6 separate regions of the Homo sapiens genome follow, and all the other regions are linked to region 4. The links come from fine-mapping of genetic effects on gene expression. A gene starts in region 4. Each other region holds a variant in brackets. All regions are shown on one strand. Distances are between the middles of the regions. Region 1 overlaps RTN1 (reticulon 1). Region 2 has its middle 47 kb from the start of DAAM1. Region 3 has its middle 53 kb from the start of DAAM1. Region 4 holds the start of L3HYPDH (trans-L-3-hydroxyproline dehydratase). Region 5 has its middle 150 kb from the start of DAAM1. Region 6 has its middle 32 kb from the start of GPR135.

The links.
Region 1: its variant is fine-mapped to the expression of L3HYPDH in tibial artery (GTEx, PIP above 0.99).
Region 2: its variant is fine-mapped to the expression of L3HYPDH in monocytes after interferon gamma (Fairfax 2014, PIP 0.95).
Region 3: its variant is fine-mapped to the expression of L3HYPDH in vagina (GTEx, PIP 0.99).
Region 5: its variant is fine-mapped to the expression of L3HYPDH in whole blood (TOPMed, PIP 0.98).
Region 6: its variant is fine-mapped to the expression of L3HYPDH in whole blood (INTERVAL, PIP 0.95).

What each region holds. Positions count from the first base shown.
Region 1 is chr14:59,677,904-59,682,979 of GRCh38, forward strand. All of the region lies in intron 3 of RTN1 (reticulon 1), which reads right to left. Among named protein-coding and RNA genes, the nearest start is that of MIR5586, 33 kb to the left of the region's middle. The variant A/G (reference allele first, on the strand shown) is at 2,271.
Region 2 is chr14:59,138,893-59,143,968 of GRCh38, forward strand. No RefSeq gene overlaps it. Among named protein-coding and RNA genes, the nearest start is that of DAAM1, 47 kb to the right of the region's middle. The variant A/AAACG (reference allele first, on the strand shown) is at 2,729.
Region 3 is chr14:59,132,730-59,137,805 of GRCh38, forward strand. It overlaps the pseudogene AKR1B1P5. Among named protein-coding and RNA genes, the nearest start is that of DAAM1, 53 kb to the right of the region's middle. The variant C/T (reference allele first, on the strand shown) is at 2,213.
Region 4 is chr14:59,481,756-59,486,831 of GRCh38, forward strand. It overlaps L3HYPDH (trans-L-3-hydroxyproline dehydratase), which reads right to left and starts at 2,653. Exons shown (of 5, transcript NM_144581.2): 1 at 2,054-2,653. The coding sequence starts at 2,561. JKAMP (JNK1/MAPK8 associated membrane protein) reads left to right here and starts at 2,762. Exons shown (of 7, transcript NM_016475.5): 1 at 2,762-2,838; 2 at 4,958-5,049. The coding sequence starts at 2,835. RefSeq lists an enhancer at 2,728-3,007.
Region 5 is chr14:59,035,195-59,040,270 of GRCh38, forward strand. No RefSeq gene overlaps it. Among named protein-coding and RNA genes, the nearest start is that of DAAM1, 150 kb to the right of the region's middle. The variant C/T (reference allele first, on the strand shown) is at 2,293.
Region 6 is chr14:59,430,657-59,435,732 of GRCh38, forward strand. No RefSeq gene overlaps it. Among named protein-coding and RNA genes, the nearest start is that of GPR135, 32 kb to the right of the region's middle. The variant A/G (reference allele first, on the strand shown) is at 2,343.

The DNA of each region.
Region 1 (5,076 bases), 200 kb after region 4:
TGGCCCATTTCTGTCTCTTAATGTTAGAACAGTCCCCTAAAATAGTCTTTCTTACAAAAATAACATTCTTTTCTCACTCCCAGGATCTTGGCATCTAAATGCTATTCTAGGCATTTTAGAAAAATAAATAGTCAAAGCTATTTACAACAATGACTACCACGCTGTGGCCTGAGATGGTGAGTTTCACTTGAATTGCCAAGAAGGGAACAAGGGCGTCATATAAACCCTGGAAAACAAGCCCAGGGACAAGTCCTGTTCTGGGGTCTGGAGGATTTGGAAGGCTGCCAAAGCTTAGGCAGTGGTGGTAGGGGTGCGTGGGGAATGTGAAAAGGGGTCTTTTCTCCAAAGTTTTATTTAAGGGTTGAATGCTAATGCGAAAATGGCCTAGCTCAATCATTTTAGCTTCTCTGGCTTGGCCTTCCTAACAGCAAGAAAGAAGCCATCAATGAGCTACAAAACTTCATTTTTCCTACAGGCTGGAAGTGGTCTCTTTTTAATATATGTTCTGGATTCCACTGTCTGAGAGAAGAAAATTGATTTAAACATTTAGGTATCTACAGACAACTCTTACTGACTCAGGGGCCAGCGCACTCAGATTGCAGATTGCAGCATCCCTGTTTCTCTACCTTGTGCCTCATCCTTTGTGAATTCTGAAAGCTGGTTGCTTTTTCCCACATACTGAGGTCCAGCGTGGGCCACAGCACATGTTGGGACCTCAAGAGCTGAAGGTTCCTTGCTGGGCTCCCAGGCACAGAGGTACAGGCCTCCCTTCTCACTACTGCCCCTTCCTCAACCTCCACTGTCCCCATTGTCCTTAGGCTCACTGGTGTGGAAGAGACTTTAACAGACTGACATGCTGATCTTCAGGTTTCTCAAAGCGTGACCACAGACCACCTGCTTCAGAAGCACTGGGGGAGTTGGTTAAAAATGCAGCTTCCTGGGCCTCACCCCAGGCTTACTTAGTCAGAATGGGAAGCTGAGAATGTACATTTTTAACAGGCTATCCAGGTAATTCTTATGCACATATAAGTTTAAGGACCATAGATACAGGTGCAGGGTCTTAGTATCTAACTCTGTTGGGTTCTTGAGTTCAACTGTGATTTCAAAAAGCAAGGGATAGCATCTGAATCCTCTTGGCTCCTGGCAGAGTGACAGATTGGATTGTGAGGGATGACAGTGTCTGGAAAAGACTGGGAACAGGTAGGAATCTACTAGAAAAAGGCCAAGATAATCCCTAACTTGACATTTTGTATTGAGTATTATCATGTGTAATTGTTAGGGTGGCTTGGGTATGAATTAGAGAAGTATTCTCAATTTCCCTCTTAAGCATCAGAAGTTGCACAGGTGCTCTGAAATGAAACAATAGTACAGCCCTCTCTGCTAAATTGAGTTATCTATTAAACAAACAGAGCCACCAATGATAACCCATACACCCTTTGACTTAGGTTTCATCTTTACCATTGTATCAATGTTTGTAAAATAAGGCTAGAGACTGGAGCTCTAACTTTTCTCAATCCAGACTCTACCTCTCTCCAGCTAAGACCATGAGGTCTTTATTTCTTCTCTATGCCTTAATTTCCCCAACTGTGGGATGAATCTGCTTATAGTACTAGTCATAGGTACCTTTTAATGGTTATTAAAAAGGGTTGAACAGTAAAACAGCAGAGTACAAAACAGGTGTTATATTAGTAATCACTCTTAATAATTTCATTGTTAATCATTGTCACTGCAAAAATTAACAGTGACCTGACCTATGAGAAGAAGCTGAACTGTTTAGCTCAAATGAAGTCTGGGGATGACTTCTGGATTTAAGTTATTCACACTCAACCTATCACTTATTGCCACAGACACTTCAAAGTTCACAGTTCTCTGAAATATCATAATTTTCCAGAGCTTCCATACAGACTTGCATATAATTTTCCAGAGCTTCCATACAGAACAATTTGAACCTTGCAAATTGTTCTCATTTTATCTTAGGTCTAACAGGTTGGGGGTTGGGGTTTGTTTTTCTTTTTTAAAAAAATAGAACTTCTTAAAAACCAGGTCAGACTTATCAACAGAATCTAAATAAGGCTTGGTGTGTTGTGCAACCTCTACAACATAGCAACAATGAAATTTCACTGCAACTACTGCCCTCATACCCAATAGCATTTACAATACCTCTGACAAAGTGTGTCTATTTCCATGGTACCTGTTGCCATGGGAGCTGAGCAGTGCTCCTCCTAGAACAATCATGTTAGTAACATAGCTCTTAGCTATTGCCTTCTAAG[A/G]GCTTTGCTCTGGGGAAAAAATGGGATACTTTGTTTTTGAAAGAAGTCATAAACCTCCTCCAAAATAGACAATTGTTGCTTAATAGTACTAAAAAGGAAAGAGCAATCCCTCTTTCCCTCCATACCAGTTAGAGAAGCATTTCTTTCCTTCTGGAGAAGTATTTCCAAGTGAAACCATGCAAAATATAGGGAAGTGTGTTTTGAATTCCATTTTAAAGTTATTTTGCATAAAAGTTAAATAAAAAAGGAGATAGTTGTCATTGTTTACAATAAGTCTATCTTTACTAATTTGAGCTAATCAGTGAATTCACTGAATAAAATACAAGGTTAGTGCCAATTACCAATTTCCCAATGAACCCAAATACAAGGCTTTATAGCATGCTGTATTATTTAGTGTGTCCAGGCATTGCCACATAAAGCTGATGGAAGTATACATTTGTATCATCTTTCTAAAACACAATTTGGCAATAGGAGCCTTAAAATGTTCATATGTTTTAGTATGGTAATTCTATTTCCAGAAATCTATCTCAAGAAAATAATTTGAAATGAACACAAAGCCTTATAAACAAAGATACTCAATGGAGTGGTATTTAAAGTTTTTTAAAGCTAAAATCTAAATGTTGAACAATAGAGAATGTGTAACTAAGTAACTGAAAAGTGATAGGCATCTTTATGCTGTCATGAAAAACCATATTTATGAAGAGTTTTTAATAACTTGGGAAAATGTTTATCATATCAAGTTAAAAAAAGAAGTATATGAATTTATACAGCCAACATAACAAGTATACAAAAATATGTACAGACATAATAATAGAATATATGTTGAAATTTTGACAGTGGTGGTTGAATTATGGATTACAGTTATTTTGTCTTTTATAAGTTTCTATATTAATAGTATGTGTGTGTCTATCTCTATTTCCCATTTTCTCTTTTTTCTCTGCTTCTCTTTTCATCTAAGTGCTCATAAAACTACAAATCTATTTTATTATTTCCATATTTATTAAATACATCTTAGATTTCCACATGTACAAATCCAACAAAAACTTACCAAGCATTATTTGCTATGAACAATTCTTAATTTAGACATATGAACATATATTTCCTCTAACAAAAACAAGTCAGTTACTTTGCTTTTAATTTACTTGGTTCTTGATTCATATGTTTTATTCCATGAGTAACTGTCTCTCAATAGAAAATCATTCTGAATCTTAAAAAATGGTAATTTGAAAATGCCAAAATGTTCTCCATACTATTTTTTCAACCCTTTTTTCTAGCTCCAATAATGATTATCAATGATGAGTGTCATATCAATTCCATCCCCAAACCACACACTGCAGTAGGCACTGGGAAATAATGAATCTGGGTCACTAATACTCTGTATTCTCCACTGGGCTCTCTCACTCATGCTCATAGTTACCACCAGACATGGGTACCACCAGCTCTGAATCTCCAGCCTGGACCTAGCTCTTGAGTTCCAGGTTCAGGTCACTAACTGCTTACTAAATAAATCTTCCTGAATGTCTCCTAGGCATCTATGAACTCATTTTCCCTGTATCACCTTCTCAGATCGTGTTCCACTAAGCAGCCTTCTTTTTCATCCAGCTAATCACATCAGAACACAAGGATCATCCCAGATTCCTGTTTCTGTCTCACTGTTCCCTTCCCCTACCCTCAAACCTTGATTTCTACTTTCCAAATCTCTCCCAAATTCATCCTCTCAGCTGCTACAGCTTTAGTTTATAGTTTAGACCCTCGTCACTGCTCACTAGATTTTTTTAGTGATCTTCTAACTATCCTTTTGGTTACCAATCTGTCCTTCTCATGGAGAAATCTTTCTAAACATAAATCTGATCATGGTGCTACCCTTTAAGAAGCTAGAAGATCCAGCATGTGCTTTTTAATGTGGCTCCTTCCCATCTCCCCATCTTCATCTCCCATGGCTTTGCCACTGACATACTTTCCAGAAAAATGGAATTATCCTAATTCCCTGAAATCACATGCTATTTCACCCTTTGAGGACTTTACACACATTCTTTTCTTCAACTGAAATTCTCTCACCTGCTCCATATTTCAAGACTTAGCTCAAGGTTCAACTCCATTTGTCTTCCTTTCCTTATGGCATTACTATTTCTGGTACATCTTCTCATGATTATTTTATTTATTTGAACAAGATTTATTACACATCCAATGTTATACCATGCATTGTGCTGGCTGCTGGGTAGATAGACTACTTCTGCCCCCACAGAAGGATTCCACTTGCCTTTCCTGCTGTTGAAGTTTATACCTATGTCTCCTTTGAATTGCTAGAGGGCAGGAACTGACTCATGGTCATCTTTGTATCTCCCAGCTTCTGGCGAAAGTAGATGCCTAATAAATGTGTATTGAACAAATGGAAACAAACACAAGTGTTTCTGTTTACATTAACACAACAATAAAACTTAACAAGTATAAAAGTTACTCATAATTGCCAATGAGTAATGTTTCACACTTCATAAAACAGAAACAATTGTCTCTAGGGAACAAAATCAAATGTATACTTACAGAGCACATGGTTAAGCATTGCTAAAAAAGGCTTTGAGAATATGATTTGATAATTTATGAGTTTCCTCATAATTCTATGATTAAAGTGACTAATCATAGGGAATATAGTTAGTCCCACTGAACTCCACTCCAGAAACTGTGGTTCCTAATACGCATGCACTAATTTGCCTAATAGAAATCTTACTTATGAGGTTATTCAGCATTTAAGAGTGCAGGCAAAAGAAAGGAGAAGCAATTTGATTTGTACCTAGGGGAGTGACATTTT
Region 2 (5,076 bases), 340 kb before region 4:
GGAACACATTTTAAGTATGGAAAGAGAAAATCCATGATGAGAAAGGCTGTCCCTACACTGACAGCTGGAGCTCCTGGGGAACCTTTAATCACTTTACCTTAAGCCATGGTTTCTTGTCATCCAAACTGCAAGAGAGTAACACTAAATAAGAGACAGAGGTTGTGACATTCTTATACAATTCATACTTTGCCATTTTCCTGTAAATTTACTTTTATAATTCTCCTTATAGTAAATAAAGTTATCCCTAAAAAAGAACATTATTTTAGGATGGAGGCAATAAGAACACTTTGAATAATGAGATCCTTAGAAAATGAATTCGGAGAATTTTCACCTCTGGATAATAAATTATTTAGATAGATCATCTCTTTAAGACCAATGAATCTTTAAAGTTGTCTGCTTCTAATTTCAAGAATATTAGCTATGATCTGTGATATTCTCATCCCCCAGCAGCCCTTCTGCCCAACACTACCAGCAAGGAAGATTGCTTGCGCATTGGGTTCAGTGTCTAACTCCGCTGGCATAGTGGAGACTGAGCCTGTGCACTGGCCTGAGGGGCTGAACAAAGTCTGTGAAGAGAAGAGAACACCCTCTGAAAATTGGCCTCCTAGCCTGGCCTAAGGGTGACTTCGCCTGTCACACTCTATGGGGTTGGCCAATGGTGAAGTAGTCCCTCCTTGTAGCATTCCCTCAGGGACAAGTTTCTATATTAAAATCTAGTGGCTTCCCGAGCTTTGTTTTGTTTTGGTTTTTTTCCCAGGATTGGGTCCAAACTCAATGGCAGAGAAGACTCTTCAGGGTCCAGCCGCTGGCTCCATCTCTAGCCCCTCTCCTATCACTTTTCTCTCTCTCTCTGAAGCCTGCACACCAGCCACACCAAGTGACAGTATTTTGGGGTGATAACATGCTCTCATGACTGTGTTTTGTACATACGTCTTATACACAATCCCCTAAACCTCCCGGTTGGGAGACAGAGATTCTATTCCCAGCTTTGCCATCAACCATACAGGTGACCTCAGTTTCTCTGTCTATAAAATAAGGGGATTAGAGGCTTAATCATTGCTAAGTTGTGGCCTATGGTTCAAATCTGGCTCCATACAAGCTTAGACATGCATTGTGTGTGTGTGTGTGTGGGTGTATCACCCTCCAGTCCAGCCTAGTCCCCCACTTTCTCTCTTCTATACCTAGCAGTGTTACACATTTACATCAGTTTCTGGCCCTTAAAGGTACATTAATAGGCCAACAAGAGGCCAGATGCTCTCTAAGGTTTCTTCCATGTGAAATAAATTAACTCCAAAAACACAGGCTGAAGCAGATGGTAAATGTGCAAGAAATGCATAAAAGACCTCAGCGTCAGGTACTAGAGACCCTATCAAATAGTCCTGGACTGACACCAAGACCTTTATAAACAATCAGATTCCCTTGACTGATCCCATATGGCTAACGAATTTGCTTTCTTTTACCACGTGGCTTAGCAGGTATTAGCACCATCGCTCCCGGGATGGTCTGCTTTTCCACACAAAATCAAACTGATTTCTCCACAGAACACCTGTTCCTTTTGAAGCTGTAACCCAATGATCAATAATCTTTATTTTCCTTCCTGAATAATAATTTACAAAAGAGAAAACCGAGGTCCTACTATTTCTCATTTTAACACGGACTAGTATCTGCAAGTTTCTGTTGTAACAGAGGAAATCTGGAGCCCATTTCTCTCAACCACTTGAGTTTGACAGGATCATGAACCACTGGAATTCCAGTCCACCCTGGGGAAACATGTTGTTCAGACCTGTGATATATGCTCATCTACTCCCAACATCCATTTCCTTTGACATAAAGTATATGGCCTTTCCTCTGACCAAAGCCCACTTCTTCTTAAACTAGTTTGAACTTTTTTTGCACTAAACTGCATGCTGATCAGGTGTGGCAGAAACAAATAAATCATCCAATTTTCCCAAAGAGAAAAGGCTATGACGAATGCTAAAAGGCAGAGGGCTGGATCAGAGGGTCTCTTAAGACCCCTTCTAGCTCATCTGTTTTATAACTCTAAGTTCATTAAAAGATTGTGCCAAAACAGTGGATGCCTCATAGTAATTCATGAATAGAAATTATTACTGAAAAAGAAATGTAGGCCGAGCGCGGTGGCTTGTGCCTGTAATCCCAGCACTTTGGGAGGCCAAGGCAGGCAGATCATGAGGTCAAGAGATCGATACCATCCTGGCCAACATGGTGAAACCCCATGTCTACTAAAAATACAAAAATTAGCTGGGCATGATGGCACATGCCTGTAGTCCCAGCTACTCGGGAGGCTGAGGCAGGAGAGTCAATTGAACCCGGGAGGCGGAGCTTGCAGTGAGCCGAGATTGCACCACTGCACTCCAGCCTGGTGACAGAGCTCCATCTCAAAAAAAAAAAAAAAAAAAAAGAAAAGAAAAGAAAAAGAGGGCCAAGGGCGGTCATACCTGTAATCCCAGCACTTTGGGAGGCCAAGGTCAGGAGTTCAGGACCTGTCTGACCAACATGGAGAAACCCCATCTCTACTAAAAATACAAAAATTAGCCGGGTGTGGTGGCGTGTGCCTATAATCCCAGCTACTCAGGAGGCTGAGGCAGGAGAATCGCTTGAACCCAGGAGGTGAAGGTTGCAGTGAGCCAAGATCGCACCACTGTACCCCAGCCTGGGTGACAGAGACTGTCTCAGAAAAAAAAAAAAAAAAAAACGGAAGGAAAGAGAA[A/AAACG]GAAGGAAAGAGAAAGGTAATTGTCTGTGAATACATTAATACACCTTCCTCTCCAAAAATGAAAACAGAAAATCACTGAGCATGTTCACGTGGAGACAACAAATTCTGGACATCAAAGGAAAGGTCAAAGTAACATGGGGCTAGAATATGCAGAGTGGTGCCCAGAGATTTGAGAATTATGTTCAGGTGATGATCTACAGCTCTGAAGACTCCAGACCTGAGATCTTCGGGATGATTTATGACTGCAGAGCTGTGTGCAAGAAATTTATTTGGAAGTGGAGCAAAGAAAGATGAGCTAGTGTCTCAATAAGTGCTTGTAATCCTGTGAGAAATAGCTAAGTCCTTTTAAAATTTATAACAAATATATGAACATTTCGGATCTTGATTACCTTTTGGAAATGAGTACATACTGTGACTGAAAAGATAGGGTGGGAATACATGCAACCAGAATCATGGTGGTTTTCAATTAATCTCATTCCTTTGACAATTTATCTTTTATTTCTGAAACTTATTTGGCTAGGCATTATATCAACTAAGAACTCTACAAGTTGACTATATGGTATAATCACAGAACTACATTCTAATAACTGTTCATCTGCACAGCAGTCAAAAGGGCTGCTTTGCATGCACGTGGCAAAAGAGATCAATATGAGAAAGAAGAAAAAACAACAAAAGGGAAAGAAGAGTGAATGGGAGGAAGGGAGGGAGGAAGGAAGGGAGGGAGGAAGCCAGGAAGAAAAAAAAGTTTTTTAAGTTAAGCAAATTATTAACTTATTCCATCTCCAAAGTTGAAAAAGATCAGACAGTTACTAAAATAAACAATTTCCCCCCCAAATCTATTTTGGTTCTTATTTTTTGAACTTTTTTCCTCTATTACTTCAGTAAGTTGTACCTTTTGTTTCTATAATTTAGTGGTTACCCGAGAAATATAATACCATACCCAGGCTTATGAAAGACTAAAGTGAATGAAAATCTTTACCATGTTCTCAAATGATACAAAGCTTAAATTGTGCTAAATTAATAAAACCTATGGAAAGAAAAGAGAGAAGGGAAGAAAATAAAGAAGGAAGAAAGGAAAGTGGGGGGAGGAGGATACAAGAATCGAGAGAGAAATTTTCTGAAAAGATGTTTTAAAGAATGGCCTTAAGAAGGCAGACATCAAAGTCCTACAGATAGGGTAGAATAAAATGTGAGCTCAAAAAGAGAAAGTGCTTTGCCCAACATCACACAGATAGGAACAGAGCCAGGACTTGAACAAAATCTAGTACCCTTTCCCATAATCTCATGCTGCTTCACTAGAGACTGCTACTCAGTGCATGTGGCTTCCAAAGAAGTCCCAAAGGCAGGCTGGGCACGGTGGCTCACACCTATAATCCCAGCACTTTGGGAGGCCGAGGCAGACAGATCACCTGAGATCGGGAGTTCGAGACCAGCCTGACCAACATGGAAAAACCCTGTCTCTACTAAAAATACAAAATTAGCTGGTCATGGTGGCACATGCCTGTAATCGCAGCTACTTGGGAGCCTGAGGCGGGAGAATAGCTTGAACCCAGGAGGTGGAGGTTGCAGTGAGCTGAGATCTCGCCATTGCACTCCAGCCTGGGCAACAAGAGCGAAACTCTATCTCAAAAACAAAACAAAAAAGAAGTCCCAAAGGCTACTGCTAAAACACCTTTGCAGGGTTTGCAATGTTTCCCGCCACCCTCACCTCCTCCCCACCCCCAAAAGAATGACAGCATTGGCAAATTGATCAAATAGATGTATTTGCAACCAAACAGAACTAAAACAGACTTTCATTCCTAAATAATAACCCTGGGGGAAAAGAGTCTACATGACTGATGGCCATTTGGAAAACTTAGTTTTTCTTTTCTGTATAAATAAACATCATTAAGTATTTGCATGGTACATCCAGCGCAAATCAAACATAGGTGATGCCAATGAGCCCTCTTAAAAATGCCTTTTTCTGCTTTACCCATCCTTCTCTATATAATCAGCTCTTTGGGAAATCCAAGTATACACTGGTATGGCATAACAAGCCACACCTTGGCCTTCCACTTCATTTCTTTTTCCCTAACATGAAATGGCTGCTATCAATTTTAACAGCTCTAAAATTTTTCTACCTGTGTTATTGCATTATGGTTGTACATTACAGTGAAATGTACATTACAGTGAAATGAAAAGGAGCTTTTGAAAAACGTCTGGATGAGTTTATGGATGTTGCTTCACGAGGATTTGAACTAATTTGGTCACGGGAGAAACTGTTTTAAGGTAATATGCAAAATATGTCTGTATTTTAACTATTAAATTTAAAAAATATTTGCAGCACATTTGTCTTGTAGTTTGGGTAT
Region 3 (5,076 bases), 350 kb before region 4:
GTCCCTTGACTTCCATGTCAGGTTGGCTCATTGTAATATAAAATCCATTTTATCACATTTATTTTGTCTCAGATTGTCAAGCAGAGGCTGTGCAGGTTGTGGATTCTCAAGGAAAAGAAAACAGCATTTGTTTTATTAATAGAGTTGATGGTTTCTTCAAAGCAAAAATGTAGATCAGAAACAAATTATGCTTTGCCCACTGGCTGAGATTTAAAATATCTCTCCAACTGTCACAGAAAAGAACTAGACTTAATTCAATGTAAAATGCATGAACCAGTTTCTAAAAATAAAATTGGAAGCACTTTAGTTGCTATAAACTTCATTCCAGGAAAGTGAGTTATATGAGTATTTTATATTGTTTTATGGGACTTGGAGATTAAAATGATTTTTGGTTGACATCGTGTCGGCTTCCTATTTGAATCAGTCCAGAATGAAGCTGAATAGAATTATAGGGGAAAAAATGAATGACCATTACTGGCAGTAAAACAACCAGGCTTTGCCAATAACATTTTAAACACATATACATACACTTTACACCCCCTCCAAATTTTTTATTGGTTATGTCCACATAGACTGAAAGTTCTACACCAGTGGTTCCTCTCAAAGCTCATTCCTGATGACTGAAACTGTTTTATGGCGTGGTCAGCTCCACAGTTTGGAGGAAGGGGGCAGTAATCATCTCTCTGTGACCCTCATATCCCCAAACTCCCATTCAAAGTCAGCAATAGGTAGTATTAACTTCTTCCTCTGCAAAGATTAAGCTCTGATGGAAATGAAATATTTGGTGAGCCCTGAACAGGGCTTTCGCAAAAGGAAGTGCAAAAGTTAAACAATCAGTCATAGGTAGTGGAATAATAGTTTATATATTTTTTCTTCTTGGCAAGTTCTTTTTATTGTCCAGTACTTCTGTCGTTTCTACCGAACCTTAACGCTAGGGCTTATTATCCCAATGAAGAAGGAACACCAAAAATCCCAGCATGAACGAAAGAATCGAATAATGGGCTCGAAAGCCTATGTTGAGTTCCAAAATAGGTTTTAGGCCTATGGCAGAGACAGATTTGAAGGAGGTTGGGGGAAGGTTTCTTAAGCTCCAGAAGGAAAAATACATGAAGCACTCAGAACATAGTGTTTTACAACAAAGTCTAATCTCTGATTGCAAAAGAACTCGTCCCAAAATATAGAGAGATGATAAGAAGACTTGAGGGAGGGAGCTGGAGAGAACATGGGGAGTCAACCAGCTAAAGGGAGTTAGTGATGTGGTCTCTGTAAGAGGGTTCCACATGCTGCTCCCTCTGGGTCCAAAACCCTAGAAAAGAAGGGATGATGGAAACCTTCAGGAAGATGCAGGAAGACAAGACAGCAGAGGACTTTGTGTCTGAATTGCTGGGAGGAAGCTGCCTTCCAGGGCACCCCATGCCAACATGGAGTAGCTGCACTAAAATGGAAAGGATGAGTCAGGTTCAAGGAGAAAGGAGATGAGACCCCACCTCATACACAGATGCCACCTTGAAGGAGCCCCTGCAAGTGATCAGGGACTTGAGTGAGCACAGAGCGAACTAAAATATCAACTTGCAGAAGAGAAAGGGAGATTCTCACAGTAGAGGCTGTGGGATGGGCAGCCACAGTCAGAGTTGAGACGGAAAAATTTTGCTGAGTTTCAGAAGCTAGACAGCCACCGGCCAATGTTGAGGCAGGAACTATGGGAAAGCAACAGGGGAGACGCCAAAACCCAGCAGAGCAATGGTCCTGCAGTGAGCCTGTTGTGAGAACAGGCTTTGAGTGACAGCAACAGTGAATGCCAGTGGAGAAGTAATTGCAGATCAAAGGTTTCTCTGAGAATGTCAAGGTTATGCATAAGTCCTCCAGAGCCTCTGACCACTCCCAGGGAGATGGGAAGGAAAAGGAAGATGAGGTGAAACAAAATGACTAGGTACCCCCAAAGAGACTGAGTTTAAGGTAAATGCAGTGGTTCTCAACCAAGGACAATTTTACACCTCCAGGGACATTTGATATGATCTGGAGACATTTTGTCGTTGGCACAACTAGGAAGGGCAGGAGGCTGCTGGCATCTTATGAGTGGAGGCCAGGGATGCCGCTAAACATCCCAAAACATGTGGGACAACCTTCACAACAAAGAATTATCCTGTCCAAAATGTGAAGAGTGTTGAGGTTGAGAAACCCTGAGCCAAAGTAACTGAGTTACTACTGTCGG[C/T]AGAAATGAGACTATGAGAAATGTTTTAAAAAGAAATTTACACTTTTGCACACCCAAATTCCTATAACTGAACACACACACACACACACAATAATACAAAGATGGAGGTTTGAAGAAAATGGGGGAGTGGAAGTTAAAATGGTAGTACACAGCCTAAGAAATGTCAAATTTTTTTTTAAGCTCACAACAGCACTTTTTTTTTTAGGCAAGGAGAAGTCTTGCTGAAAAGTTACAAGCAGTCAAAACGTGACTGTTAGTGGCACTATTTTGACCTTGTAGATTTTGCTTCTCCTTGGTCAAAAAAAGGGTATGCACACTACACTTTCCCCAGCTGGGCAAAAAAGAGGGCAGAGGAAACTGGAATAGACTTCTACTCTACTGACACTGCTCCTCAGACCCAACATCAAGCTAGAAAAGCCCTGGCTGCTCAGTCTAGTGGTTGTTGTTCCACCACTGAGTGACACAGGCCATGCTATATTTGCAAGAAAAAAATGAGCAGGAAAAACAAGTGTAGGTCACTGGGGATGAGCAGGCATCCACCCCTTCAAAACTCTGCATGGAAGAGGTAATCCTTATAAGAGGCACAGCTTACCAAGGCACAGACCCTCCAGTTCTTGTTGTAGCTGAATAAGATGGTAATATCCTGGCTGCTTGGTTCAAAGTCTGTGACTCAGCAGTGCATTCTGGTATCACAGACCTGGGGATCACCATCAAGTTCCTCTGCCTGGGGAACCGGATCCAAACCTGGATCGCCTGGCTATGATCACCTGGCTATGATTGCCTTGATCTTGGGATCCTCCAGGAGGGAAGGGTCCTCAGCCTTGGCCCAGAGGCTGTCAGGAGAGCCAAGGGGACTACAGGCAGTCACCATAATGCCTTTAGAGTGGCAGTACTGGATTAACTTCTGTGTGAGGCACAGGTGGCACTCCATTTGGTTAACTGCTGGCTTATACTTTAACCCAGGTTTGTTTAAGATCCTCTCAACCTGGAGATGGTTGAAGGTGGAGATGCCAGTAGCTTTCACCAGCCCTTCATCCACCAGCTCTTCATGGCCACCCGTGTGTCCACAATGTCAGTGTCACTGGGAACCATGTTGCCTGACTCATCCAATGGGAAGGATTCCTTCCCACGCTTAAAGCTGGCTGGCCAGTGAACAAGGTAGTAGTCCAGGTAGCCCTGCTTAAGGTCACTGAGCATCTTCTGACAGGCTCCTTTCACCAGGCCCTTCCCATGGTATGTGCACCAGAGTTTGCTGATGATGAAGAGCTCCTCACGCTTCACCATCTGCCCCCTGAGCTTCTCCTGAATGGCCACCCCTATCTCATTCTCATTCTCGTACCTGGGCTCAGTGGATGTGGCGGTACCTGATATCAATCGCCACCTTCACAGCCTTGGTCACCTGGCCTGGAGGGGACATTCAGATGCCCAGTCCCAGGATGGCCATCTTGGTGCCATTGTTGAGCATGAGGTGGCTGGCCATGGATGCAGTGCTTCCCAGACCCCTTCCCAGAAACATGCACAGAAACTTCAATATTTAAATATTAGGTAGGAAAAACCAGTAAAGAAAGACTTGGAAGAGGCCAGGTGTGGTGGCTCATGCCAGTAATCCCAGCACTTTGGGAGGATGAGGCGGACGGATCACAAGGTCAGGAGATCGAGACCATCCTGGCTAACACAGTGAAACCCCATTTTTACTAAAAATACAAAAAATTAGCTGGGCGTGGTGGTGGGTGCCTGTAGTCCCAGCTACTTGAGAGGCTGAGGCAGGAGAATGGCATGAACCCAGGAGGCGGAGCTTGCAGTGAGCTGAGATTGCACCACTGCACTCCAGCCTGAGCGACAGAGCGATACTCTATCTCAAAAAAAAAAAAAAAAAAAGAAAAAGAAAAAGACTTGGAGGAGGGACAGCAAGGTACAAAAGACACCAAGAGAGTGTATATTATCACAACAGCTAAGGAAAAAGGACAGACGAGCTCAAGAAGGACAGAGTAAACTGTGTAAAATGCCCTAAGAAGTCAAGATGATAAGCTAAATGTATAGATTAGTTGAATTCTGCTTCTTGTCTATTAGGGGAGGTGGGGAGGAATGGGATCCAGAGAACACATGAAAGGATTCACTTTAGATGGAAGAGATTCCTCCTCCACTGGAACAGGAGAGAAGAGAATAGGTGCTAATACAAGTAGGTTTATAAATTGTATTGCAATAAATTGTGAATTTCCCACTTAGGAAGCAAAAAATCATCTGCTGAAATTGAGAGGAAGAGAAGAGAAGCCAAAGAGTGTGGAAGGTTTGAAATGGCAATTATAGAGAGTGGTGGGCCAGTCAATTAAAGAAACTTGGTAGGATGCACGGGCAGCACGGAGTGCCCAGTTGAGGCTGGTGACTATGAAACTGTAGTGACAATGGGCACCTGTGTGTGATAGCGCCCCAGCACTTCTCAGCTGCTTGATGCAATCACAGAGATGACAAAATAGCTAGATTAGCCAACAGAGGGTTTGGTTAGGATCAGTGGTTATTTAACTGGGATTTGTGTCAGAATCACACTGGGAATTTTTTGGGAACACTCACACACATGCATGGACTATGTCCCTAAGATTCCAGGCTCCATAAACCTGATGGTTGGCCAGGACATTTGTGTTCTGAGGAAGTTTCCCAGTAATGTGCAGCAGCAGTTAGGAACCACTCATCAGTTCAGGTGCAACTAAAGAAGACTGACAAGGGAGTGAGCAAGAGTGATATTGGAACAATGGGCAGTAAAATCTAAGCCAAATTCAAGAGAAAGGTAAAGACACAGCGTCTCACAGGTAGGGTTAATGCAGAGATCAATAGGTAGGAGATCCCATAAAGTCAAATAACAGGACCTA
Region 4 (5,076 bases):
TTAAACTACAAAAAATTTTAAGGATGAGAGGGAAGCAATATGATAGGCCAGGGTTCCAACCCTAGTTCTGCCATTAGTGTGGCTTTGGTGTCTTGTGCAAACTGTAACTGCTATTTCTCCTAAAAGAGTTGTTTTGAAAATTCCACGTATGGGGAGTTCCTGGCACAGATTAGGGACTCGAAAGCCAAAACTTTAATTTCCAGTGGCAATAGGTTTCTCAAGAGGACCAGATGTTTACATTTGTCAATCAGCATATTCTTCTCCAAATTTCATTTATTTAGTTACTCATTCAACAAACATTCATTGACTGACTACTCTTCTAGGCACTTAGAATACTGTGAACAAGAAAGAGTTTGCATTTTAGCCTGGTGGGGTGGAGATGAACTCAGCAACCCTCTGAGGTGGGTACTGTTGTCATCCTCATTTTGCAGACTGTGATACTGAGGCATGGACTCTCTAGCACAAGGTCACTGAGATGGGGAGAGGTGGGGCAGTGACCTTGAACACTATGTCTGCCTTGTATGCATTTTTCAAAGTAGAGAATATAGCATTTCATTTTCTTAACTCAGTGACCATTAATGCCCACTAATCATTGTACTGTCATACAGTGATGCTCTCAGGAACTACTGAGAGGAACTACTGAGGTCAAGTGGTTGACTGACCCTGCCCTAACTGACCCAGAAATGAGATGTAGTTTGTGTTCCTGCTGCCAGCTGCCATTTCCTACAGAAGTCTAGAGTGTTTCTACTCTGCTGCTGGAGTTGCCTAGGGGGAATTCTGGTAGCCACGCTAGTTAAACTGTTGAGGTTTTAAAAATGGAATCGTAAACATAAATTCTGTCTCCCTCAAGTGGCCTCCCAGTCTGGAAGTGACACCATTCTCTGGGAAAATGGCATCAATTTCTCCAGAGGCATTCTTCGTTAACTCGTGGATTTCAGCTGCCTAAGGTTGCTCTAAAAGTGCCTGTTCTATCAGTTATCATTCATAATCAGGCTAATCTGAAACCTAGTTCTTCAGGGGGAATCAAGGTCCAACTTTCTAACAGATGATTTGCATGGCTTGAAGATTTTTAAGAAAAGGATAACTCTATTCCTGGTAAACTGGCTCCTGGCTCACTTCCAGTCACAATGACTAAAGCATTCTTACTGATAGAATTCAGCTCCTGGGAGGTAGTAGTCTGATGAGAAACCAGATGCCAGCTTGCCAGGTCATCCCTCCTGTAAGGGTTATGGTTATAGAGATGCCCTGCTTTACATGATAAGCTGTACAAGGATCTGTACTAGAGAATCCAGCAAAACCTTTTAATGGCTCAATAGGCCTAGGGAACTTTAGCGATCATATAAACCTTGCAATCTATCTCCAGGAATACAGTATCTTGCATACTCTCATTTAATCCTAACAAAAAAACTCTATGAGGGAAAAGAAGAAACACAGGCACAGAGAGATTAAGTAATTTGCCTAAGGTTGCACAGCTTTAGGGGGTTATCAGGATTTGAAACCAGGCAATGTGTGTTCCTGTTCTTAAAGAAAAGCAACATTCGTATCTTAATGATTTATAAACTGCTTTGTTCATTCATTCTCATTTAATTCTTCAAAGAAGTGGGGGAGGTGAGGAAAGGAGACCAGGTTTAGTAACTTATTAAGTGTGATTCTGTGTCTACCAAGCATATTCTCAGCCAGCCTGGAACCCTGGTACATTGGCTGTTCTTCGCTCTTTCCTTGACCCCACCGTACCTTGCTTTATCCACCGGTGAAATCTCTAGGAATGCCTCACCAGTGCAGAGGGAGGCGCTGAGTCAGGGTAACACGCAATTCCTCGCTCCTCAAGGGTCTCCCAAAACCACAGGCGGATGGGAGTCAGGGAAAATCGAAATTACACGCACCAAATACGCAAGGCTGCTGACACACGTTGGCAGTGATTTACCTTTCTATTAATTGCAAGGTTTCGCGGAGTAGGTTAGTTGCCAGAGTTCCAGCCCAGAAAAACCGTTAATGTAGTTAGTCGCGTCCCGGTTGCAGCTCTGCCCTGGGCTGGAAAGGTCCCGCCCATTACCTGTGGCCAGCACGAAGGCCGGGACGCTGTGGAAGCGCACCGGTCCGTGGCTGCGGCCGTCCTCGCATGCCACGAAGGCGGTCACCAGCCCGCAGGGGCAGTGGATATTGACGCGGGCCTCGCGGGTGCCCGCAGGGGGCGCCGGCACAAGCCCGAAGTCCAAAGCGAAGCGGCCCAGCGCCAGCACTGCGTGGCCGCACATGGAGCTGTAGCCCTCGTTGTGCAGGAACAGGACGCCCAGATGCGCGTCCGGCAGCTCGCTCGGGACTAGGACCGCCCCGTACATGTCCCGGTGCCCTCGGGGCTCGAACATGAGCCGTCGCCGCACGTGGTCAAGGTGCTGGCGCATGTAGCGCCGCTTGGCCAGCAGGGTGGGCCCAGACACCTCCGGACACCCCGCCAGCACGATACGCAAGGGCTCGCCGCCCGTGTGCATGTCCACCACCGACAGCACCGGCGTCCCTGGATCATGCGGGGGCAGCCGGGGCACCGCCAGCGCGCTCTCCATGGTCTGCGTCGGGGGAGACGAGTACGGTCCCGCAGCTATGGCTTCAAGCCCGACCCTCACCCACTGACTCCGCGGGAGGAGGGCGGGACGCTAACCAGCCACGTCCGGGGGGCGGGGTCTCGGAGCCTAAACCCGGAAGCGAGGGAGGAACTTCGGAGCTGTCGCCCGGGTTACCGGGAGGCGGAGCCGCCGAGCTCGCTGTGGCCCGGATGTTCGGTGCAGCTGCCAGATCCGCTGATCTAGTGCTTCTCGAAAAAAACCTTCAGGCGGCCCATGGGTGAGTGGTCGCCAAGATCCCGGGAAGCGTTTCTGGTAGTCCCGACTACTTTCCTACACGGCTGGCCTCGGGCTCGGCTCTTTGTAGGCGGCCTTCGGTTGGCGGCGCAGGCTCGCCCCTTGACCCCGCCCGCCCTCGGGCCGGGCTCCGCACTCCTGCGGGGTTGGGGTGGTCTGTCCGCAACGGGCTACTAGGGGAGGCGCGCTGTCTGCGGCGAAATGCCAGGTCTTTGTTGTTTGGTCCGAAATGTCTCTTCAGTCCCTTAGTTTAATGTCGAGGGAACACTTGCTTGAGGGTTGACTTCGGAATTGAAAACGCGGGTGATAGTGCAGAAAAAACAGTAAAGCAGAAGCAAGTTGCTGCATAATTTGTCTACTGCTTCAACCTCAAACGTAGATTTATAGCGCCCGTCACAAAGGGCAGGACCGCTGCAAAAAAATGGAATCTTAAAACTTTAGCCATCGTTCGCTAAAGGAAATGAAAGGAGAAATTCAACAGTCGCTTGGAGCCTGGGTTTTGCTTAGTAAGTGATAGGCTGTTTATTTCAGTTCAGTTTATCATACTGGTTTTCAGGCCTTGGATTTTGAGAAACTTTAGATTATTGATATTCACGTGTATTTATTAAGCATCTACTAGATGTAAAGCCCATACAGAAGTTTCCAATTCCTTACCTTCTGCATTCTTGAAAAACCTGAAATATTCATTTTCATGTATTAATTTAGAACATTGTGATTACAATTGGTTACAAAAAAAATAAGCGCCCATTAAAGAGGCCAGTGGGTTTAAAAAGCTAAGTCCGAAATTTGTTAAAAGCGAAAATATTAAACTGGAGGAATATTATTCAATGCTGTTTCTCTTTTTCTCTCAGCAGCATAAGGAGAAGGAAGTAAAAAGTCTGCTTGAATGTGAAAGGAGAGAAGGCACTGTAGACCAGGCAGTCTAGATTGTGAATTCGTGAATAATTTGGGAAATGATTGTTCAAGAATAGTCAAAAGATGCATAATTTTTCAAATTAATTCACATGTAGACCGCAGTTTGTTTTGAGACGGAGTCTCCTTCTGTAGCCCAGGCTGGAGTGCAGTGGCGCGATCTCGGCTCACTGCAACCTCTGCCTCCTGGGTTCAAGCGATTCTCCTGCCTCAGCCTCCCCAGTAGCTGGGACTACAGGCGCGCGCCACCACGTCAGGCTAATTTTTGTATTTTTAGTAGAGACGGGGTTTCACCATTTTGGCCAGGCTGGTCTGGAACTCCTGACCTCATGATCTGCCCACCTCGACCTCCCAAAGTGCTGGGATTACAGGCGTGAGCCACCTCACCGAGCCTGTTTGTTTGTTTTAATCAATGAATGAATGAAGGGAATCAGATGTCACTGATGAAGAAAACTTCCATAATTTCTTGTGAATAAGGTCAAAGACAACGTATTAGGTTCTTAGTTGTTGGGGTTTTTTTAAGTAAGGAATAGCTGCTTTTCCCCTAAGCCTTTAGATCAGGGGCTTAATTTTAATGCAGTGGTTTCTAAAATATTGGCCCAGTGACAGCCTTGATGAAATTTTCACTTATCCTCCACAAAAATGATAAAAGCTAGGACAATGTAGGAAACTTTTTATAAAGGTAATTTGCATACCTCTGTTATGAAATTATGTTCTCTCTGCTTTTCCCATGTGAAAATGTGTTCTGTTATGAACATAGGTGATAATGATAATTGTGTGTCTACATGTGGGTGCTTAATGTCCTGACTGGGCAAAATACAAGGTGGTGACCCTCTACTGGTGCTCTAATTTAAAAATATATGTATATTTGAACTTTATAATCAGTTAAACTCAGAAGTATCCTCTAATCATACCGGGTTAGGCTTTGAGTCCTGGAGATAGATCCTGCTCTGCTGGTTGAGGACCTTAATCATAAGGCACGGTATTAACAGCAAGGTTCCAGGATAACTGTCTGCAGTGTCACAGTGTAAAAGGAGAAATGTAAATTTAAAAATGCTTCAAGACTTTTGTCTAATACATATTATTCAAAAATTTGAAACTGTTATTTTTGCCAAATGCTTCAGCTATTATTGCAATTATTTTTTATAATCACAAAAGATGTTACTATACTGGCATTTGTTTTTAAAAAGCTGTCGATATTCAACCAGCATGCCTTGGACTTTATTGTGGGAAGACCCTATTATTTAAAAATGGCTCAACTGAAATATATGGAGAATGTGGGGTAAGTCTTATGTTTGTATCTTATTTC
Region 5 (5,076 bases), 450 kb before region 4:
ATCTGTAACAGAGGGTATTCAATTTAATTGTTTCATAGGGTGTTATGATTATCAACAGAGGTTCCATCAAGAAAAATGTTTAGGGCAGTACCTGGCACATAGCAAGCACTCAACAAAGCATTTCTTCCCCTTCCCCTCCTCCTCCTCCTCCTCCTTCTTCATCTCCTCCTGCTCCTCCTCCTCCTGCTCCTCCTCTTCTTCTTCCTCTTCTCCTCCTCCCTCCTCCCCCCTCCTCCCCCTCCTCCCCCTCTTCTCCTCCTCCTTCTTCTTCCTCCTCTTTCTCCATTTTGTTATTATTATTACAAGATAAATAGCATAATCATGTTATTTTTTTTCCTTAGAGTTCCAAATTTTTGCATAGCACACAAAGCATGTGGAACCTTTCATGTGCAACAAGCTTGACTCATGTCACCCTCCAGTGTATCCTAGCATTGCAATGCAGGTAACACTGCCAAATCAAAAGTGTCCTTCTGCTTTGCTCCACCAGAGTAATTTGCTACTAGGGCAGTCATTTGAATATGGGGACACTGTAGCCTCCTTCTACATGGTAGGGAATAGCCATAAAGATTGGTCCAAGTTTAGAGTTGCTCATGTTAATGAAAACCTGGAACCTGGGACAGCGCCAGCATTTCTATACTAGTATGTAAAGACATACCTGAGACTGGGAAAAAAGAGGTTTAATGGAATTACAGTTACACATGGCTGGGGAGGCCTCACAATCATGGCAGAAGGCAAGGAAGAGCAAGTCATGTCTTACATGGATGGCAGCAGGCAAAGAGAGAGAGCCTGTGCAGGAAAACTACCATTTTTAAAACGATCAGATCTCATGAGACTTATTCACCACCAATAGAACAGTATGGGAGAATAATTTAATTATCTCCCACTGGGTCCCTCCCACAACACGTGGTAATTATGGTAGTACAATTCAAGATGAGATTTGGGTAGAGACACAGAGCCAAACCATATCAGTTTCCTCGACTGTTTAGTGATACACTCTTTTAGTTATATATACTCAAAATATATAACTATCCCATTCCTAGTTCACAGCAGCAAAGGACAAATTAGCAAAAGAAGAAACTCACTTAGTTTCTTGAAATTCAAGAAAAGAGGAAATGACCCATTCGTGTTTCTCACAGACTAATTCCCAGAAACTACTAGCCAAGACTCAGGCTCCAAGTTTAGGCATTACCATATTTTTCATTCACTCAACAAAGTTTTTTAAATAAACTCTATGGGGAAGTTACCATAAAATATGCCATGAAGACTCTTTCTGCCTAAAGATAATTGTTACTAGTTATAAAAGTCATAAAAGCTGTTTATTGAGAAATTATTGTTTCAGGCATTCTAAGCAGGAATTTAAAATGATTGGGGTGTAGCAGATATGATGAAATCTACATTACAGATAAGAAAACTGAGGTTCAAAGAAGTTACCTATGCAAGGTCACAAGATAGATTGTGACTGAGCCAAGAGTCAAACCCAATGCTGAAAAACTCGAAAGCCCGCAATTTTTGCAACATTTTATATTGCTTCTGAATATTTTAATCTAGAGGGGAAAAATATAAAAGCTTATCAATAATATAAATTATATGTAAGTTATTCAATTGCATCCAAGAAGCATTTATTGAGGATATAAAGCACTATTATGCATTTGAAGGAGGTATAAAGTCTTGAATAAGATAGTCTACCCAGATCTTCTTTAGGGGATTGTACTCTAATATAGTACAAATAAGTGCTATAACTGAGTTAGCAGAGAACCTTATTTCTCATTAAAGAAGATCAGAGAATGTATCACAGATAATGTAAGTTAGCCACTTCTGGAAGGTTATAAGAGTATTTCAGCAAGTGGAGAAGGGTGGAAAGAACACAGCTAAGCACAGATACTTGGTGTGATATTGAGCATGAGTGAGTAGTCTGAAGGGGCAATTACTTTTGCGCCAACCTAAAAGAGCTATAAAGAGATTCACTGGCTATAGGAGGCAAGCCACATCTTTGCCAGGAAAAGGGTCATGGGACACTGTAGACCAGGAAGGTTGAGCTGGATGATATCACAGCAAAAATGCAGCAATTCAGGAAAATCTGGATGCAGAAGGATTGTGAATCACAGGCTTGGAGTTGCTGGGCCACACGAACTGGAGAGATGTGGTAATAATGGGGAGACGACTGTGTGTAGAAGTAGCCATTCTCAAGGTTCCAGATGGAACTGTGGAATGGTGATAGGATCATTTCAACAGGCTCAAAATGTCCATTTCTGACCAGCTGTACCATGGGTTTGAATCATCAAAACCTTCAGT[C/T]TTGCAGTAGGATTACTTTGAAATGGCTTCACTAGAGTGGGGGCCTGGTCTTTGTTGACAGGAATGGTGTGGAGCAGCCTTAGGTTAATGGTATGACTACTGAAAAGTAAACCCTCAAATGCTGGTGTTTTCCCAGTGTAGTGTCTTAGCCCCAACAGATCAACAAAGACCTTCTTGTAGAATATTGCCAAAAAAGATGCTTTTGTTTTGAATGCTCTTCTAATGGTTCCTGAAAGTATTAGGTTCGTGCAAAAGTAACTGCGGGTTGTGAGGTTTTTTATTGTTGTTTTTTGTGTTTTTTTGGCCATTAAAAGTAATGGCAAAAACCGCAATTACTTTTGCACCAACCTAGTATTTGATTGTTCCCTAATTCAAAGTGTTTTATTGATGCCAGAGGAACCTAAGAAATACTCTGTGGGGGTTTAACGCAGGTATCTATTGTTTTTTCAGTTACAAGACTTACTGTTAGTTTAAACCTTGACATAGAAGATAATAGATAAAAGCATACTATTATTCTGGTAGAAACTAAAATGGCTGCTCAGGTGAGGCTGTACTGTTTTTCTGTTATTCTGAATTGACTGGTAGTTTGATTAAATGTATTATTTTACACTGAAAATGTACACCAATAACTATGGCTATAACGTGTTTAATTGTATAATTTACTATGGGTGGATTTTAGTTATTGAAAGGATATTGCTTTTAAAATGTGCTTTTTTTTTTTTTTGAAACAAAGTCTCGCTCTATTGCTCAGGCTGGAGTGCAGTGAGTGGCACAGTCTTGGCTCACTGTAACCTCTGCCTCCTGGGTTTAAGTAATTTTCCTGCCTCTGCAACCCAAGTAGCTGGATTACAGGCATGGGCCACAATGCCTGGCTAATTTTTGTATTTTTAGTAGAGATGGGGTTTCACCATGTTGGCCAGCCTGGTCTCAAGTGATCGCCCGCCTCAGCCTCTTAAAGTGTTGGGATTGGGATCACAGGTGTTAAAATGTGCGGTGTGATCTCGGCTCACTGCAACCTCCACCTCCTGGGTTCAAGAGAGTCTTTCGCCTCAGCCTCCCAAGTAGCTGGGATTACAGGTGCCTGCCACCATGCCCAGCTAATTTTTGTATTTTTAGTAGAGACAGAGTTTCACCATATTGGCCAGGCTGGTCTTGAACTCCTGACCTCAAGTGATCCACCGGCCTCGGCCTCCCAAAGTGCTGGGATTACAGGCATAAGCCACTGCGCCCAGCAAAATGTGCTTGTTCTTGTAATGATGTCTTAAGGTTCTGAATATCACATACAACATAAAACCATGTGTTTTCACTCTTAAAATCCCCACTGGGAAAGAAAGTTCACCTGAGTGCTACTGAGATTTGCTCCATTCTCTAAAGTGGAAGAGGCTGTGAGGAGGCAGAGTCGAGTTGAGAGCACTACTACTTTCAAGTCGGGAATCCCTGCCTCAAAGCGTTGCCCCAGAGCCATATGACACACACAAGCTGTTCACCTTTCTTAATGTTAGAACCTGGCCTCCTCAAGAGAAGAATCTTGTTAATCATACCAACAACTATTTTGTTCTTTCTGCCTCACGCTTTGCAAGGCAAAGGGGTGCAGGAATTGGAAGGCAGAGTGGATACTCCTCTTCCTTCTCCTGCTACTACTACTATTGCTACTGCTGCAAACACTACCAGTTCTTTGGCTGCTAGCTAAGATTTATTGGGCATTTTCTATTTGCTATACCTTACTCTAAGCATTCAAATATATCAATTCAATCTTTATAGTAACTCTTCCAAGTAGCTATTTTTAATCTCCATTTTACAGGTGATGATCTGAAACACAGTGATATGGGTAGGCTTTGTTTTCTCACCCAAATCTCATCTTCAATTGTAATCCCCAGGTGTTGTGGGAGGGACCAGGTGGGAGATGATTGGATCATGGGGGCAGTTTTCCCCATACTGTTCTCGTGATAGTGAGGGAGTTCTCATGAGATCTGATAGTTTTATACATGGCAGTTTCCCCTGGGCCTTTTTCTCTCTCCCGCCACCTTGTGAAGAAGATGCCTTCCTTTCTGGCATGATTGGAAGTTTCCTGAGACCTCCCCAGCCATGCAGAACTGTGAGTCTATTAAACCTCCTTTCTTTATAAATTACCCAGTCTCGGATAGTGTCTTTATAGCAGTGTGAAAACAGACTAATCCACGCAGCAAGGATACATAACTGGCCTGAGTTTACACCACTAGTAACTGGTAGAGTTTGGTCTAACTTAATCTACTTTATCAGAAAATGAAAGCATTAACATGTACTCTTTTAAAAATATTTGTTGACATACTCCAACATGTAACTCCGTGATAAAATTTCTTCCACGGAGGCTGAATAAACAACTGAGCCACTTGGCCAGCTTTGACCCTCCAATATATTTCTATCTACAAAAATAGCACAGTTTATCATCTTTTTAAGAATAGGAGGTTTATAGTTAGAGGGAAAGTGGAGTCATTTTTCTGCTTCCATGACTAGGAATTGATCTCTTTTGTATAGTTGTCTAAAGGTATGTTAATAAATATGAGGGAATTCACATTGCCTATCTGAAAATTTTGTTTTGCTTTGTCGTATTGGGTTTCTTTTGGGAGGACATAAAGTGATGCGAATTCTTCTGACCCTCATTCCAGGGTATAAGAAAGAGATAAATCCACAAAGGCATACTAATAATTGCCTACATAGTATATCTGCTTGGGGCAATGATATTTTGAGCCTTGGAGAAAGACTCTGAGGTACAGCAGTGACAGTTGGCCATTAATACAAAAATTG
Region 6 (5,076 bases), 51 kb before region 4:
TCTACTAAAAATACAAAAAATTAGCCGGGCATGGTGGTGGGCGCCTGTAGTCCCAGCTACTCAGGGGGCTGAGGCAGGAGAATGGCCTGAACCCAGGAGGCGGGCTTGCAGTGAGCCAAGATTGTGCCACTGCACTCCAGCCTGGGCGGCAGAGTGAGACTCCATCTCAAAAAAAATAAATAAATAAAATAAAATAAAAGTACATGGCGTCTCTGTATTATTTCTTACAACTGCATGGGAATCAAAAACTTTTTCAGAATAAAAAATCTATAATAATATTTTAATCCTAAAAAGATGATCTCTCGAAATCCTGTGTTCAACTGTAACTTGGATGTCACTTGTTTCACCCTGTTCAGACTGATTCATGCATCACTCTAGTGATGGCAGTGTGCCCTTCAGACAAATGTCAGGTTACAGGTGAAGTTCAACTTCCCTCCTTCTAATCCAGTAAAAAGCACTTACTTGAGTTAATATCATGAATCAATGAAGTATTCAGTGCTGGAAATGAACCTACTGTTTTGTTTTGTTTTTTTTTAAGTTCATACCTCCTCTGAACTAGATAGGCATTTAAGTGATAAAGCAGAGGAAGCAAGAAGGAGATATCAATGAGAAATGATTGGTTGGTTGGATCATGGCATGTACCTACCTCACTTCAAAAAGTGATTTAGGATATGTTATTTTAAAAATACGTGTTCTATATTGTGGTAGGCCGAGTGGTAGTCCTCCAAAGAGGTCCATGTCTTAATCCTCAGAACATGTGAATATGTCACCTTGCATGGTAAAAGGAACTTTGCAGATGTGACTAAGTTAAGGATCTTGAGATGAGAGATTAGCCTGTATTATGCAGGTGGGCCTGATGTAATTGTAAGGTTCCTTACAAAAAGGAGGGAGGAGTTCAGAGAGAGGAGAAGAGAATTTGTTAAGGAAAGCAGATATTGGAATGATATGGCCATAGCCAAGGAAACTGGCAGCCACTGGAAGCTGGGTGAGGCAAGGAATATTCCCTCTGAAGCCATCAGAAGGAATCAGCCCTGCTGACACCTTGATTTTAGCCCTATAAGATTCATTTCTGATTTCTGACTTCCAAAGTTTAAGAGAAGAATAAATATGTGTTGTCTTAAATCACTGCATTTGTGGTAATTTGTTACAATAGCAACAAGAAATTAATTGAAGGAGAAGAAAATAAAGAGGGGAAAATATGATGAAGCAATAGCTTACTCTTTCTTGTGTCTAATTTTATTGAAATACTAATTTGAAAGCAAGATTTACTTCTTATAAACTCTATGTAGACTGTGCACTTGAAAGCTTACCAAACAAAACAAAAACAAAAAAATCAGTCAACTCGCGTAGCGAGACATTGTATAATCTCTAATAATTAACTTTTTTGTACTCTGCCAGTAAAAAAGCTCATATTAGAAATTATTTTTAGGTCAGGTGCAGTGACTCACATCTGCAATCCCAGCACTTTGGGAGGCCAAGATGGGCAGATCACTTGAAGCCAGGAGTTCAAGACCAGCCTGGCCAACATGGTGAAACCCCATCACTAATAAAAATATGAAAATTAGCCAGGCACGGTGGCCTGTAGCTACTCAAGAGGCTGAGGCAGGAGGATCCTTTCAACATGGGAGGCAGAGGCTGCAGTGAGCTGAGATCACGCTACTGCACTCCAGGCTAGGTGACAGTCTTGACTCTGTCCCCCCCCGCCCCCCAAAAAAAGAAAATGTATTAAGCACGTCTATCGTTTGTCATAGTCTCAGTAAGAGTTAAGCTCAATATTATCTCTTTATTTCCATTTTAGAAAACCAAGAACCAAGTAAATTACAATAAATTATTTAGAGCTTGGCATGCATTTCTCTATTCTTTCTCTATTTCATATTTTGAAGGCAGCTTTTTTTCATAACCTCTGGCATCATTCCCTTTACATTTAAATCATCACCATTCATTCATTAAACAGGTAATTACTGCTATACATAAATATATATACCTATAGATACATATACACACATATAAAAATACACATATATGTACATATACATACACATACATATAATAGGAATTAAATTACTCCCCTTATTTATAGTAGACGTGTGAGAACAGTGAAGACACTGATTTTCAAAAAGGCGAATTCCAGAACATGATACCTCTCATGGCCTAGAAAGTCTTTAGGATGTTGTTAAACAGTGGTTTGGGAGCATTTAGAAAAGACGTATGGCCCGGAGTGGAGTGGCTCACGCCTATAATCCCAGCAGTTTGGGAGGCCGAGGCGGGCGGATCACGAGGTCAGGAGATCGAGACCATCCCGGCTAACACAGTGAAACCTGTCTCTTCTAAAAATACAAAAA[A/G]TTAGCCGGGCGTGGTGGCGGGCGCCTATAGTCCCAGCTACTCGGAAGGCTGAGGCAGGAGAATGGCGTGAACCCGGGAGGCGGAGCTTGCAGTGAGCCGAGATCGCGCCACTGCACTCCAGCCTGGGCGAAAGAGCAAGACTCCGTCTCAAAAAAAGAAAAGAAAAGAAAAGACGTATAATCCTTAGGAGTCAGCAACATGGTTTCCTGATGGCTTTTAGAATGACAAATCCAGATAGAGTTGGTATTCACCTAATATAAGAGCTTTGGAACCTTCTCTTGTCCCAGTATATGCCACATCCCACAGGCTCCAACTGGCATAGGACTGTGTTTCAGAGAGTGCCTATTAGCATGTGAATGACTCGAGAAGAAACAATGTTCTTGCCAAGATTACATACGTATGGCTTAAAATATAATTACAATATGCTTTTAAAATATGCCACACATGTTTACAAACCACAGCACATCAGAGTATCTCTCTGAGGTCATCTAACTCAGCCCTACAGAATCCTTCTACAGCATCTACTTGAATATCCCTAGAGAATGGGAATCTATACCCTCCCTGTTCAACCTATTCATTAGACAGTTAATTTATATAGAATAAAACTCTGACCTTAATCTGACATCAACTCATCGTTCATCTGTAAATTAAAAAAAAAAAAAAATCCTGGGTTTTTTTTTTTTTTTTTTTTAAGATGGAGTTTCGCTCTTGTTGCCCCAGCCTGGAGTGAGTGCAATGGTGCCATCTTGGCTCACTGCAACCTCTGCCTCCCAGGTTCAAGCGATTCTTCTGCCTCAGCCATCCGAGTAGCTGGGATTACAGGCATGCACCACCATGTCCGGCTAATTTTGTATTTTTTAGTAGAGACGGGGTTTCACCATGTTGGTCAGGCTGGTTGTGAACTCCCAACCTCAGGTGATCTGCCCACCTTGGCCTCCCAAACTGTTGGGATTAAGAGTGTGAGCCACCACGCCCGGCCCAATCCCGTCCTCTTTTAACACGTGAAGATAGTATAAGGCTATGTCAGACCGTTCTTGCATTGCTGTAAAGAAATACCCGAGACTGGGTAATTTATAAGAAATGAGATTTATTGGCTCACGGCTTTGCAAGCTGTCAACTGGAAGCATAGTGGCATCTGCTTCTGGGGAAACCTCAGGAAGTTTCCAATCATGATGAAAGGCAAAGGGGGAGCAGTCACATCACATGGCAAGAATAGGAGCAAGGGCCGGGGGAGGTGCCACACACTTTTAAATCATCAGATCTCACTCACGATGGTGAAGACAGCACCAAACCATAAGGAATCTGCCCCCATGATCCAAACATCTCCCACCAGGCCCGCTTCCAGCATTGGGGATTACAATTCAACATGAGATTTGGGCAGGGACAAATATCCAAACTGTATCACAGGCCCTGCTTCCAAAATTTTTTTTTTCCCAAGTTAAACATACATTTTTTTCTTAACTTTCCTTCACAGGTCATTTTCCAGGCAGATCTAGCCATACTAATCTCTGCTGCAAATTTTTCTAAACCAATTTTATAATGTATTGCTCAGACCAGGACAAATACTCCAGATGTCATCTGCCACAACAGGTTATAACAGTTATGAAGGTAATGCTCTGTATTCATCTGTGTGGCAGGAAATCTCATTAGCTTCATTGAAATAATTACACCAAATTATGTTCTTTTGTATCTTTTTCCAAGTAATCATAAAAAATGTTTTATAGAAAAAAATGTAAGGATTAAACGCTGTGATACTCTAAAAGAGATATCCTGCCACATAGATACTTAGGTTATTGTGTTGGTTCAGCCAGCTGTGACTCCACCTCACAGTTCAATAAAGAGCCAGCATCTCTCCAGCCTCTTCAGAAGGCTGCGCTGGAGGACTTCCAACCATGCTAGTCATGGTACATTATAGGTATGGCATTCCCCAGATGCAACAAATCAATAATGAGGATAATTTGGCCTGTCTTACAATTACTGAACTACTTTTTTGACTCCTAGCGATAACTTCTTTTCTAATGTTCTTCCACCATCTGTTTAAAATGAGCTCTTGAATTTTTCTAGGACATGATATCATCTTATAGGATTTGACCTTTTGAAAATCTGGATGAGGAGGTGTCTCCATTTTCCTAACATCAACTACCCCCCAACAGTTTTGAAGATTATATATAGCAGTTCTGAAAGCATCTCCATATTTGTTCATCACCCTGGGATAAAATTCATCTGGACTTACGAATTTGCACTAAACTAAAAACAACCAGAATTCAAAAGAACTCCCCTGCCTGCCAATGACTTAGTGTCACATGATAACTGTGGCAGAAGGGGATCTGCAGTCACTAGGCTCTTTAAAGATACAACAGAGCAGCGTTGGTGGTACAAAGGGCTTCACAGCAAATGGCAGTAGATAAATCTGCTATTGTATCTTCTGATTATTAAGATAATTAAGATAATTAACTTTATTTGGGTTACTACGCTAGGAATTATCCTATTTCTTCATAACATGAGTTGTTAACTTTCTTGTTACCATTGAAATAGAATGCCACTAAGGCAGCTACCAGCATTTGTCACAAACATGAAACTAGCTCCTAAAATTTTAGGCCTTAAATATGGAGATAAATTTAGAAGACATTGTAGTATCTCCCCAACATCAATTTCAATCTCTCCTTTTGTATAGGTTGCATTGGGTGGGGTTGACTTCACTCCCAACTCCAGGGGTGCCCCCAGGTTGCTTTG